4 separate regions of the Homo sapiens genome follow, and regions 2, 3 and 4 are each reported to be linked to region 1. The links are microRNA targets in miRTarBase. Many come from high-throughput screens and were not tested one by one. Region 1 holds a microRNA gene; each other region holds the end of a gene's coding sequence.

Region 1 (3,142 bases):
AAATAGAAAAACTAAGTAGCTTCTTATATTATCATCTTTTAGCAATGAGAAAACTAAGGTTCAGATAAGTTAGCAAATTATTCACCAAACTCCACCAATGACATTGAATTTGTGCCCTATAGGGATTTACTGAGAACTAAAGGGCCCAGTGCATTTAGAGTGCTCTGCAGACGCTTGGCTTAGAAGCCCTGGAAGGAAGTATTTTCCATTACTTTTGTTACCAATGTTGTTACTACATTTGGGGGTGCTTGCTTTATTTCTAAACTTAATGTCTGGGGATTTAAAAATTGCCATTTTAACACAATGGCACATATAATTGAGTAGAAGATATATTTTTTAAAAGTTGATTTTTTTTAATTAGAAAAAAACTAAAAATTGAAAATGAAAGTGAATTACTAACACTGAACTCATTTCCTTCTCCCCTCTACTCCAATCCACTCCAGTTTCACTGGTTTTTCGTTGCTTCTCTCGAATGCCAGTGCCCTTCAAACCTTAAAGACTTGGTGTTGACACTTTCCTCTGATGGTCACAGGAGAATGATCTGAATGTTCTTCCCTAGGTGTGGCTCACTCCCTTATCTCCTTTGACCTCCACCTTGAATATCACCCCTTAACTGAGGCTACTCTGACCGGCACCACACTCTCCCTGCCATAGCATCCCCTAGCCTCCTTACGCTGTACTGATTAATTTTCTTAGCACTTGCCATCTCTAACACTATATGGATTTCCTTATTTATTTTGTTTATTGCTTATCTGCCATACTAGAATGTGAACTCCACAAAGGTAAGGACTTTTTTGTCTCTTTTTTTTCATTAAAGAATCCTGACTGCTTCAAATTGTACAATGTAGATGCCTAATAAATGCTTATTGAGTGACTGAGTGAATGACTATTGAAACTGGCCAAGCAATGTTATATAGCCTTGTTTGGCTACACAGGTGCTTTAGATACAAGTTCATGTATATTTTGTCGATTTATTGCCCTATCTAACATCTCTCAAACTAAGGCTTTGGTGGAGTCACTGAGCAGTTAATATATTACTGAAAGCAGATGAATGTGCTTGGATCTAGGCAGAGTAACAAAACAAAGACAGCTAAAGTTAAAAGTCTGACCCAAGGTCTCACATTCCTATAAATAATTGATAATGCATCAGGGGAATTTTAATGAATATATTTGATTTGTTTTATTTACAAAATAGACATACTAAAAGTTGCACATAATTATTAATCCTTTTCTAGAAGAGTAAACAAATTTATTAGAGACCAAGCAGACTGAAAGTGATTGGGCTTCTTTGTGAAACACTGCCAATATATGCAAAATTATATCCAATACAACTGAAGGAAAATATATTTGAAGCAATTACAAATCCTGTCCCATAACATGATGTGTGGTGTGATAACCAACATCATACAACTTTGCATTATCCCTCCTGCCAATTTCATCTAATAAAACACGACTCATGTGAAATGGTGTGTGCCCTAGGTTCCTGTGGTAATTAGCTGTGTCTAAATTGCTATAACATGGGCAATGATATTTAAAGTTGCTCTTACATTGCCTAAGAGTGCATAGCAAAATAATAATTATCATGTAATTTAGATTTTCAAAATGTAAACAGATCATGGCCACAAAAATAAGGGGAATTTCAGGATGAGTGGCTGTGCACTGTCTAGCCTGGTGGCCAGTCTCATTTCAGATCCATTGTAAAACTGAGAGACAGACAGCATTCAGGTACCCTGCAGGTTTTGGTTACAGACTTTACTGAGTGGTCAAATAGATATTGTGCCTTCTAGATTTAGGCAAAAAAGAAGAGTGGTGAGGCTTTGGCATATTTCTGTTCATGACATATTGGCACAATATTTCTACAAATCACTCAAAGCTAAAGCTAAGGCAATTAGGAGTAGTGCATCCATTTCTACTTATGAAAAACTTAACTTGGTGTTTCTAGGATAATTAGATCAAAGTAAGCTCCCTTAGGGTATGATCTACGTTTTCTTTAAACTGTTCCTTTCCCAGTGCCAGACATGGTACCATGGTTAATAAATCTTATTAGCAGTCTGACTGAAGATTTTAAAGTGATATTCTTACAATAACGTTTGCCTGTAGAGACAGATTCAATACCAAATTTAATAATGGCAAGCTGTCAATTGCTTTGCCTTTGTCATCCATGGTAATTGGGATCAACTCTGGTGCTCCTCCACACAGAACATTCAATTGAGATCAAGCCTTGGATGAAATCTCTTTTCCAGAATGCTCCTCATTTATTGAATCAGAAGGAGCCTGGACTTACCATTTGAAGGTGGTAGGAAATGGCCACCTTCAAATGGGAAGTCTAGGCTCCTTATGATGGCTTATGGTAGCTTCCGTGACATGGCTCCAGGCCATCCCTTCAACTCTACTCTTTAGCTACAAACATGTTGATGCTATGATTTGGTAGAAGTCCATTCTATTCATATTTATGGCATAGTGTACAATGTGTGCATTTTTCAGATTTTAATATTGTAGCTACTATATGGTTTGGAACTGTTTTCATGAAAATGAACTAATTTAGTTTAAGATAGTGATTCTCAACCAAGGATGATTTTGCTTGTTAGGGGACAGTTCAAAAGGTCTGGGGACATTTTTTGTTGTGGTGACTGGATGGGGAGGGTGTTACTGGCCAGGATAAACATTCTACAATGCACAGAATGGCCTCCCCCAGAAAGAATTATCCCATTCAAAATATCAGCAATTTCAAGGGTGAGAAATCCTGGTTGACAAATGTAATTGAGTGAAAAGTTTACATAATATAATTTTTAAGTGTTCTACTTCGAAATGCTGTCAGTTTGATAGAGCTCAGTTAATTAAATTTACATCTTGGAAAAGGCAAAACTAAATTAAAACCTATGCCCTTGTTTATGTTCATATGGCTGAGCCATAGACAACACAACCTCCAAGTACTCAGCTGCTCACTCTCACCTGAACCATCTTTTCTGCTGTGTCAACAAGAGGCAAGATCCTTGTCAGAAACCCAAGAGTTCTTGGTAACTCCCTATTCTTCACCTTGCATATCCAGTCAATCACCAGTTCTTGTTTATAGTCCCGTTACATCCAAAGTCATTTTCAAATCTTTTCCTTTCTCTCCAAATTGCCCCTCTTCCAGTTAAGA
Region 2 (3,000 bases), not on the chromosome of region 1:
TTGTCTATTTTTTCTTTCTATAGGACAAAAAAACTAATACAGACTCCTTTATTTTTATATGGATATACTAGGATTGTAATTCAGATATTTAATATCTTTTATCAGTGTTCAGATCATAGATTAATGGAGAAAACATTTAAAATTGTTTTAAATTTAAATACATTGAACTCTAACATAGATGAAAAATGTGTTTACTGCTTTCAGTCGACCTGATAAAAAGCAACGTATGGTAAATATTGAAAACTCCAGGCATCGAAAACAAGAGCAGAAGCACCTTCAGCCACAGCCTTATAAAAGGGAAGGTAAATGGCATAAATATGGTCGCACTAATGGAAGACAAATGGCAAATCTTGAAATAGAATTGGGGCAATTACCTTTTGATCCTCAATACTGATTCACAATTGAGTTAAATTAGACAACTGTAAGAGAAAAATTTATGCTTTGTATAATGTTTGGTATTGAAACTAATGAAATTACCAAGATGACAATGTCTTTTCTTTTGTTTCTAAGTATCAGTTTGATAACTTTATATTATTCCTCAGAAGCATTAGTTAAAAGTCTACTAACCTGCATTTTCCTGTAGTTTAGCTTCGTTGAATTTTTTTTGACACTGGAAATGTTCAACTGTAGTTTTATTAAGGAAGCCAGGCATGCAACAGATTTTGTGCATGAAATGAGACTTCCTTTCAGTGTAAGAGCTTAAAGCAAGCTCAGTCATACATGACAAAGTGTAATTAACACTGATGTTTGTGTTAAATTTGCAGCAGAGCTTGAGAAAAGTACATTGTTCTGGAATTTCATCATTAACATTTTATAATCTTACACTCACTTCTTGTCTTTTTGTGGGTTCAAGAGCCCTCTGACTTGTGAAGAATTTGCTGCCCTCTTAAGAGCTTGCTGACTTGTTTTCTTGTGAAATTTTTTGCACATCTGAATATCGTGGAAGAAACAATAAAACTACACCATGAGGAAAACTAAAGGTCTTTATTTAAAATCTGGCATTGTATTAACATGTAATTTTATACTATGTGGTATTTTATACATTTCCTCAGTAGTGATATTTGGTAAAGCAGTTCATACAGCTTTTTTCTAAGTTCCATGAATCTTACCCAGTGTTTACCGAAGTATTTAAGCAGCATCTGAATATTTCCACCCAGCAATGTTAATTTATCTAGGAAAGTTCAGAATTTCATCTTCATGTTGAATTTCCCTTTTAACTTCCGTTCATAGACATATATGTGACTTCCAATTCGACCCTCTGGCAAGTGAGTGTGGAAGAAAACAGCAGTTCTTTTATAATTGCTTGAAATTAGGAAAGCGCTTATTTCCTAGAAGCAAATAAATGTTTAAGTAAATAAAGGCTACATTTTGCTGAGTACTGTTTCAGTCAATTTTAGAATTGCCTATTCTAATTGCTGTCTACAACTTTTTGCTTAATAAAAGAATTAACTTATAGGAAGTAAAATACTTTGATAGTTACAGAACTGGGGCTAATTTTGACTGGAGAAAAGACTAATTATGAAATGTGGGTTGAAACAGACCATAAAAAGGTTATATTATCTATTTACCTGAGGGTTTCCTAAACCTGGGGTAAAATTAAAATACTGAGTTTTCCTCTTTTTCATGTTTACTTACCTCTTCCAAAATGCTGAAGGTGATCAAGTGAGTAGGCAATGATGCATCATCATGAAACTCTCTATGTAACCAGTTTAAGGGATTTAGGTAAAATACATCTGCTTCATCAAGATAATGACTTTTTCCAGTCAGGTCTGGCGGGCACTGGAGAAATCTCATGGGAAGTGGGCAGTGAACATGGCTATGAAAAGAAAAGTTACCATAATAAATACAAGTAAAACATGAAAGTTTTCATTAGTCTTAAGATATGTCATTTATACTTAGCAAAATGTGAAATCTGAATCTGTAAACTGTGTTGCAGTTAAGTGAAGAAGCAAGCCTTTAACTCATTTTCTCAAAGATAAAAAAAACATGATTCTTATACCATGTACCTATGCAGCAGCAGCAGTATAACCTATAAGCCCAAACTAGTGCATAGAAGTCCATTTCAAGGAGGGAAGTAGGTCAGTAGGGGGACTCAACATTCTGTAGCATTGGTATTCTGTTCCGGAAACATAAATGGTCCTCAGGACCAGGTAAGTTAACTTGTTAATAGGAGAGTAATTCTCCATAGGTGTATTTGATAAAGTAGGAAACTGTGATCATAATCAGAAAGGATTCTTTCTCTCTTCCCTTTCTGCTCTGATAGGGGATGGATCACATACTTATATGGCAAGTTTTTTTTTTTTGAAGACAAGAGTTTCGCTCTCGTCACCCAGGCTGGAGTGCAATGGCGCAATCTCAGCTCACTGCAACCTCCACCTCCCAGCAATTCTCCTGTCTCAGCCTCCCAAGTAGCTGGGATTACAGGCGCCCGCCAACCACGCCTGGCTGATTTTTGTATTTTTTTAGTAGAGATGGGGTTTCACCATGTTGGCCAGGCTGGTCCTGAACTCCTAACCTCAGGTGATCCACCCGCCTCAGCCTTCCAAAGTGCTGGGATTACAGGTGTGAGCCACCACGCCCAGCCACATGGCAAGTTTGAAGTGTTTTTTTTTTTTATTTAAGATGATTGAGAAGTAGAGAGCAACATATGTCCACTGATTAACATCCAAATAAGTAATGGTTTTATTGTGGCATAGAAAGACTAGAGTAGGCCGGGTGCAGTGGCTTATGCCTGTAATCCCAGAACTTTGGGAGGCCAAGGCATGTGGATCACTGGAGGTCAGGAGTTCAAGACCAGCCTGGCCAACATGGTGAAACCCTGTATCTACTAAAAGTACAAAAATTAGCCGGGCATGGTGGTATGTGCCTGTAGTTCCAGCTACTCAAGAGGCTGAGGCAGGACAATTTCTTGAACCCAGAAGACGGAGGTTGCAGTGAGCTGAGATCATACGCCACTGCACTCCAGCCTGGGCGACAGAGCAAGAGTCTGTCTCAAAACAA
Region 3 (3,142 bases), not on the chromosome of region 1:
TTTTCTTAATATGGAATAGCCATTAACTCTTTATTTATTTATTTTTTTTGAGACGGAGTCTCGTTCTGTTGCCCAGGCTGGAGTGCAGTGGCGTGATCTCGGCTCACTGCAACCTCTGCCTCTCGGGTTCAAACGATTCTCCTGCCTCAGCCTCCCGAGTAGCTGGGACTACAGGCATGTGCCACCATGCCTGGCTAATTTTTTGTATTTTTAGTAGAGACGGGATTTCACCGTGTTAGCCAGGATGGTCTCAATCTCCTGACCTCGTGATTCGCCCACCTCGGCCTCCCAGAGTGCTGGGATTACAGGTGTGAGCCACCTTGCATGGCCCCTGTTAACTCTTTGTTTTTCTCCTTCATTCTTTGTGTGTGTTTTATAAACATTTAAATGTTTATAGGGTCAAATTAGTTCATTTCTTTTCTTTGTGACTTTTACCCTTTTTCTGTTTTGTAAGAATATCTTAAGTCTTACTGATGCACGTTTTTCCTTTTTTTCATTTTAGCATTTATATAACTCTGCAGCCTTCAAAGCTCGAACCAAAGCTAGAAGCAAATGTCGAGATAAGAGAGCAGATGTTGGAGAATTCTTCTAGATTTTCAGAACTTGAAGACTATTTTCTAATTTCTATTTTTTTTTCTATTTCAATGTATTTAAACTCTAGACACAGTTTTTATCCTGGATTAACTTAGATAACTTTTGTAGCAGTGGTTATATTGCTTATAATTTAATGTACAATACTATTGAAACTGGTGAGTTCTGATTATTAAATATTCTCTGTAAATCAGTAAACATGTATAAAGTATTTGTAATGTTTGGTCATAATTTATTTATGAAGACAGCAAAAGACTGATTTCATGATGGGGAAAACAATTAGCCAAAGTTTAATTTCTTACACTGTGGTTGTCAAGAATACTGATTTACTATAATGATATATACATGCAAGATATTTAACTTAATATCTTAGACAAGAGTTCTGGGTACAATTTTGGGATCTAGTTCCCCTGGAAAAGCTGCTGTATTTTTAATTTTTAATGGAATGTAGCTTTTAAAATCCTGTCACTGGCATCAACAAAAGGAATTATACCATGAGACCTTATAGCTGTACTTAAAAGCCATTCAGTTCAGCTATTGGGAGTTCATGATGAATTAGCATATGCCAGAAAGGTTGCTAACCTTAACATCTGAGAGCAGTAACACTGATTTTATCTGCTGTATGAGACTTTGTGCATTTTACTTTGAAATAAAGATTTTTTTCCACACTGAAAGTGCTTCTCTTCTAATAGAAGAAATATTATTTATGGCTTTGAGGTACAGAGTCCAAAATGACTAGGCCAGGTGGGCAGGGAGACAAAGCTTTATGTGTATATTTACAAACATTAAAGTAGATGAAAAGAATGTAGCAATACATAATTGGGATTAAGGTTTCTGACTTTCAAGAATATTTCTGCTTGGCAACATGCAGTGTGGCTCATGCCTATAATCAGCACTCTGGGGAGGCTGAGGCGGGAGGATGGCATGAGCCCAGTTTGAGACCAGCCTGGGCAACATAGCGAGACCCTGTCTCTACCAGAAATTTAAAAAATGAGTGTGGTGGTGTGTGCTTCTACTCTTTATCTACTTGGGTGCTGAGGCAAGAGGGTAACTTGAGCCCAGGAGGTCAAAGCTGCAGTGAGCCGTGATTGTGCCACTCCAGCCTGGGTGACGAGTGAGACCTTGTCTCAAAAGCAAAACAAAAAAGAATATTGCTGCTTGTTTGCCCATGAGGTATATTTCTTTCATTTTATGAAAAGCATTTTGACAACACGTTAACATTTAATAAACTTTAGATTAAAATATATAGTGCAAGCAACATGCCATTTCAAATCCGTAGACTTGTTTCTTTGATACTCTTGCTGTAGGTCGCCGTGAGGGGTAGGGAAGCATATATACTGTAGGGAGAAGTATCAAAATCATTTAAGGTCTTTTTTCCAAACTAGTGTTCCCCTCCCACATCCCAACAACTCTTGGAAGTCTGGTGCTCCCTCTAGGTGAAAATCATTTGCTGGCTTATGGAGTCACTGTTGCTGAGTCCCATCCCCCAGTTACAGTGCAGTGGAAAACAGGTTTAGAATCTAGAACTTGTTTGTATGTTGTCACTTGGTTATGTTCCAAGTAGGTTAGAACCATGGAAAAGAGATTGCAAATGGTAGTTTCTTCTAGATATTCAAATGCATATATGTATGTACATGTAATTATAAATAAATAATGAATTTTTATTAAAGTGTTGTATGAACATAGGTTTTTGTTTGTTTTTGAGACAGTCTCCCTCTGTTGCGCAGGCTGGGGTGCAGTAGCGCAATCTTGGCTCACTGTAACCTCTGCCTTCAGGGTCCAAACGATTCTCCTGCCTCAGCCTCCTGAGTTGCTGGGATTACAGGTGTGTTCCACCACACCTGGCTAATTTATATTTTTAGTTGTGATGGGGTTTCACCATGTTGGCCAGGCTGGTCTTGAACTCCTGACCTCAAGTGATCTGCCCGCCTTGGTCTCCCAAAGTGTTGGGATTACAGGCATGAGCCACCGTGCCCAGCCTGAACATAGTTTAATGGTACTTCAAGGCTAATAAGGAAAGCCCCTTGCTCCATCCTTTCCTATTCCTCAGTCCCATCCCAAGAGACATTCAGCCTTCAGTTTTTTCTAGCTCGGTTCTTTCAGCCTTCAGTTTTTGGTTTTAGGTTTCTAAATAATATGATTATACAGCCATTTATTTTTTAGGTGTTTGTCAACTTACTATTAAGACAGGTGAAAATTTCTTTTATTGTTTCACATCCTTCTAATATTATTTTGGTTAGATCATGTACCTGTTTGCATAGCTGTGATCATACTTGTATGTTCACTCGTGAATTAATTTAATGTGCTTACATTTTCATTCTCATACAACGTTTTGTCTTGGAGTTAATGCTCTTTTTTTTGGCTTTTTATGCACATCATTGATTCTTCCCAAACAGTCCCAAATAAATTTGTCACAACTTTTCTTGATTCTGTACTTGTTTCAATCTAGACTAGTTTCTCTCATCCAATTGTATAGCAGTTTTCCTGAGACAGCACTATCGTGAGGATTTGTTTTTCTTTCTCTTGAATTGTATCCCTCATTTTCTGGATC
Region 4 (3,142 bases), not on the chromosome of region 1:
ACCCATTCATAGTGGAAAGCAAGCCTGCACCCCAGGAGCTCCCATTCATACCCTCTCTGTCCCCTCTCTGTTCTTCCTCCTCCCGCCTGCCCCATGCACCTCCCACCCTGAAGTTCCCTGCCACCCCTCGCCCTGTGCCAGCTTGTCTCTGCAGGCTCTCAGTCCTGGGGGCTGGAGAACAGGTGCTCAGTCCTCTTTGCTGCCCACAGAAGTCTCAGAACATTCTTGCCCCACCCTCCCTTGGGCCAAAGCCCTTTAGGGTCCCGTCCTTTCATGCTGTGCTCTCCTCCTCCTCCTCCTCCTCCCTGCCTCTCTCCTTGCTCACTGAAGACCTCAGCACCCACTGCCTCCCAGCCTTGCCCTGAACCAAGCACAGACGACCACCACGCTGGCAATGTCTCTGTCCACCAGAGGGGTGATGGGTCAGCCCCCAAGAACCTCCTACGCCACAGGGAGGAGTTGGAATTTTATTCCAAGTGAGGCAAAAACCATGCAAGGTATAGAGCAGGGGAGGCCAAGGCCAGGTGTGGGTTTAATCGGGGTCTGTCGGTGGCAGGGCAGCTGCAGGGAGGCCGTGTTGGTGATGCCTGGGCCAGGGCACAGTGGTAAAGTTTAACCCAGGCTCCCCTGTCTACCCCTGAAAAAGACTGGAAAATGCTGAGTCCCAGCCAAGGGTCCAGGGTCTAGGAGCTGAGGTCAGAGAGGCCCAGGAGGTGGGGGAGGCAGGCCCAGTGAGGTGGCCCTCTCCTGGTCTTGCTGGCTTCGGTTTTCCCAGGGGAGCTCACTGCACCCTGAGCGGCATTGTCCCCCATTGCCCTGACCCTTGCCCCCACCTCCTTGGCTGGTGGAGCCAGGAGCCTGGGAGGCCCCTGTGCACACCTGGCAGCTTCACCTCCCCAAACAGGCCCGGAGTTCATTCAAATCCAGCCTCTGGGAGCAGGGGCCTTGCCACTCGGTTATGTGAGCCTGCTAAAGCCCTCCTTGCCATGTGTGCTTGCAGGCGGGGGCCCAGAACCAAGTTGGGAGGCCACTGGCTGTCCTGTGGGACCAGAGAAGTCTGGTGCCACCCTAGCAGGGCCAAGGGACTTCTTCTGGACGTCAGTCTGTGCCCAGCCTCTACCACCAGCTTTCCCTTCCCTGCAGGGAGGGGCATGACCTGCAGAACCAAAGGTGCTTCTGTGAGCCAGTAGCCCAGTGCTGCTTGGGGGCAGGGGCGGGGCCTGTGCCTTGGGTTCCCCCCCCTCCCTGGGCACATTTGGGGTTGGGGCAGCCCACACGGTGGGGTGGGAAGATTGACCTGCCCATTTTACAAATGAGCAAAGGTGGGAGAACTCAGGGAGACATGGGGGAGCAGAGGGAGGAAGCAGAGCCCAACAGCCCGGGGCACCCGGACCCCAGCCACTGCCTGCCTGTGGATGGGTTTCTGGCCACGGTGCAGGGCTACTGCGAGGAGGAAATGAGGGTGATGTGGGCACCTGAAACAGCAGAAATGGCTCAGGGCCAGGCACTGGGGAGCCACTGTCCCCATGGGGCTTGAGCTTCTGCCTCAGAGGGACCTTCCGGCTGCCATTGAGGGTCCCAGCACCAAACCCCACAGCTGGACCACTTGGGACCTCAATCCACAGGGGGCCAGGGCTGCGGCCTATGGCAGATAAAGATAGAGGAGGAGGGCTGGATGAAGCCACAGGTGGTGGGCACAGGATAGGCCAGACAGAAGGGACTTTGGGGGACTCCACCTTGGGTAGAAGGAGGGACAGCTGAGGTCCTGTGGTGGAGAAGGCCTGGAGCAGAGGGTGACCAAGGAGATGACAGAGTGCACGTACAGGGCCAGGCCAATGGGAGTGGGAACCCTTGGGAGAGGGAGCTTCAGGCCATTCATTCAGTTCCTGTTTAGCCAGCACCCTCCTCCCCTCATCTGTCCCTCTGCCCTCACCCCAACATGCCAGAATCTCCTTCCTCTCCAGCTTGTACCCAAGCCCTCTCTGCTCCATGCCCCCAGCCTGCTGACCACCTCTCAGCCATGTCCTGGGCCTCCAGATCTGTCCCTGATCCTAGTCTTGCCTCTGAGGGGTCCATCATCCTTGTCTGTCCCCCAGACCTCCCACGCCAGCCCCTGCTCCCACCCTGCCTGGCTGCCTCGTGCCTCTGGCCCAGCTGGGTAGGTAGGGATTTGCATAGCTGCTCCCCAGCTCCTCCATACCTCGGCTCCCCACACAGCACTGCTAGGCGCCCCTGCAGGGTCCTCCCTCAGCTCAGAGGCTGCCCTACTGGCTGAGGTGCAGGCTGGTGCCAAGAGAGCATGCTGCTCTGTCAGCATGAGGCAGTGAGCAGGGCTCTGGGCAAGGGTGGCATCCAGGAAAGCCCTTGAAGACTGAGGGGCGCTTTGCTGGTTGGGCCAAGGGAGGAAGGGCCTGCCTGGCAGAAGGAACAGCCTGGGCAAAGGCCCCAAGATGGGAAAGCCTTGGTGGTTGGGGCATAGAATGGGGGGGCAGTGGGGCCGGCCAAGACAGGAAGGGCCTTGAATGTGAGGGTGAAATGATGGGGTGTCCCTGGGGGCCTTACTCCCAACTCAGATCAAGTCCTTTGGTGGCAGGGGCTGCCCCGGTCCTCTGACCCAGGGCAAGCTCTATGAGCGGTGGAGCCCATCCTAGAGATTTTCATAGACCAGGTTAAGTTCGCCATCATCTTCGAATCTATGCGGTCTCTCCTGGATAGAAAAGAAGAAAGGGAGGGAAGGAGAGAAAGAGAGAGAATGACCATTAAGAATGAACTTGCACTAATTTAGTTTTAGCCAGAGGGCAACAGATCACTTCCTGTGTAGCTTTGATGGGGGGCCTGCCCTCTGTCTCCAAGCCCACCTCCCCAGCCTCTTCCCCCACCATGCTGCCCCCACCCCTGCCCATTGCCCTCCAGCCACATGGGCCTGCCCTTCCAGCCTCAGAGCTTCCCCCACAGCTCTGCCCTCTGCCTTCTGCCCTATGTGTGGGATGCGCCTCCTCCCACAGACACACCTGTTCCATGACTGCCCCCTACTCACTCTGCCTGCGGGCTCATCATAGGGTCCCAGGGACCCCCTCCCTCCCTCCCCACCCTGGCTGGTCCCTCCCAGAAGAACACCCCTCACAACAGGGCTACAAATGCC

Evidence for each region. Region 1 holds the annotated microRNA hsa-miR-617 (AGACUUCCCAUUUGAAGGUGGC, at 2,307-2,328, opposite strand). A microRNA usually pairs through its seed, bases 2 to 8, with sites in the 3' UTR of a target mRNA and lowers its output. Matches are read on the target gene's strand: a 7mer-m8 pairs with bases 2 to 8, a 7mer-A1 pairs with bases 2 to 7 and ends in A, and an 8mer does both.
Region 2: the mRNA of CCPG1 is a reported target of hsa-miR-617. The part of its 3' UTR that is shown has no 7-base or 8-base seed match.
Region 3: the mRNA of IFRD1 is a reported target of hsa-miR-617. Seed matches in the 3' UTR shown: 7mer-m8 at 2,006-2,012.
Region 4: the mRNA of NFAM1 is a reported target of hsa-miR-617. The part of its 3' UTR that is shown has no 7-base or 8-base seed match.

Annotation. Positions count from the first base shown.
Region 1 is chr12:80,830,287-80,833,428 of GRCh38, forward strand. MIR617 (microRNA 617) reads right to left here and starts at 2,343; the gene lies at 2,247-2,343. All of the region lies in intron 4 of LIN7A (lin-7 cell polarity scaffold A), which reads right to left.
Region 2 is chr15:55,353,614-55,356,613 of GRCh38, reverse strand. It overlaps CCPG1 (cell cycle progression 1), which reads left to right. Exons shown (of 9, transcript NM_001204450.2): 9 at 205-1,375. The coding sequence ends at 394. PIGB (phosphatidylinositol glycan anchor biosynthesis class B) reads right to left here. Exons shown (of 12, transcript NM_004855.5): 11 at 1,636-1,816; 12 at 966-1,328. The coding sequence ends at 1,182. DNAAF4-CCPG1 (DNAAF4-CCPG1 readthrough (NMD candidate)) reads left to right here. Exons shown (of 16, transcript NR_037923.1): 16 at 205-1,391. Among named protein-coding and RNA genes, the nearest start is that of MIR628, 18 kb to the left of the region's middle.
Region 3 is chr7:112,474,928-112,478,069 of GRCh38, forward strand. It overlaps IFRD1 (interferon related developmental regulator 1), which reads left to right. Exons shown (of 12, transcript NM_001550.4): 12 at 503-2,276. The coding sequence ends at 592. Among named protein-coding and RNA genes, the nearest start is that of LSMEM1, 4.5 kb to the right of the region's middle.
Region 4 is chr22:42,382,514-42,385,655 of GRCh38, forward strand. NFAM1 (NFAT activating protein with ITAM motif 1) reads right to left here. Exons shown (of 6, transcript NM_145912.8): 6 at 1-2,707. The coding sequence ends at 2,648. Among named protein-coding and RNA genes, the nearest start is that of LINC01315, 15 kb to the left of the region's middle.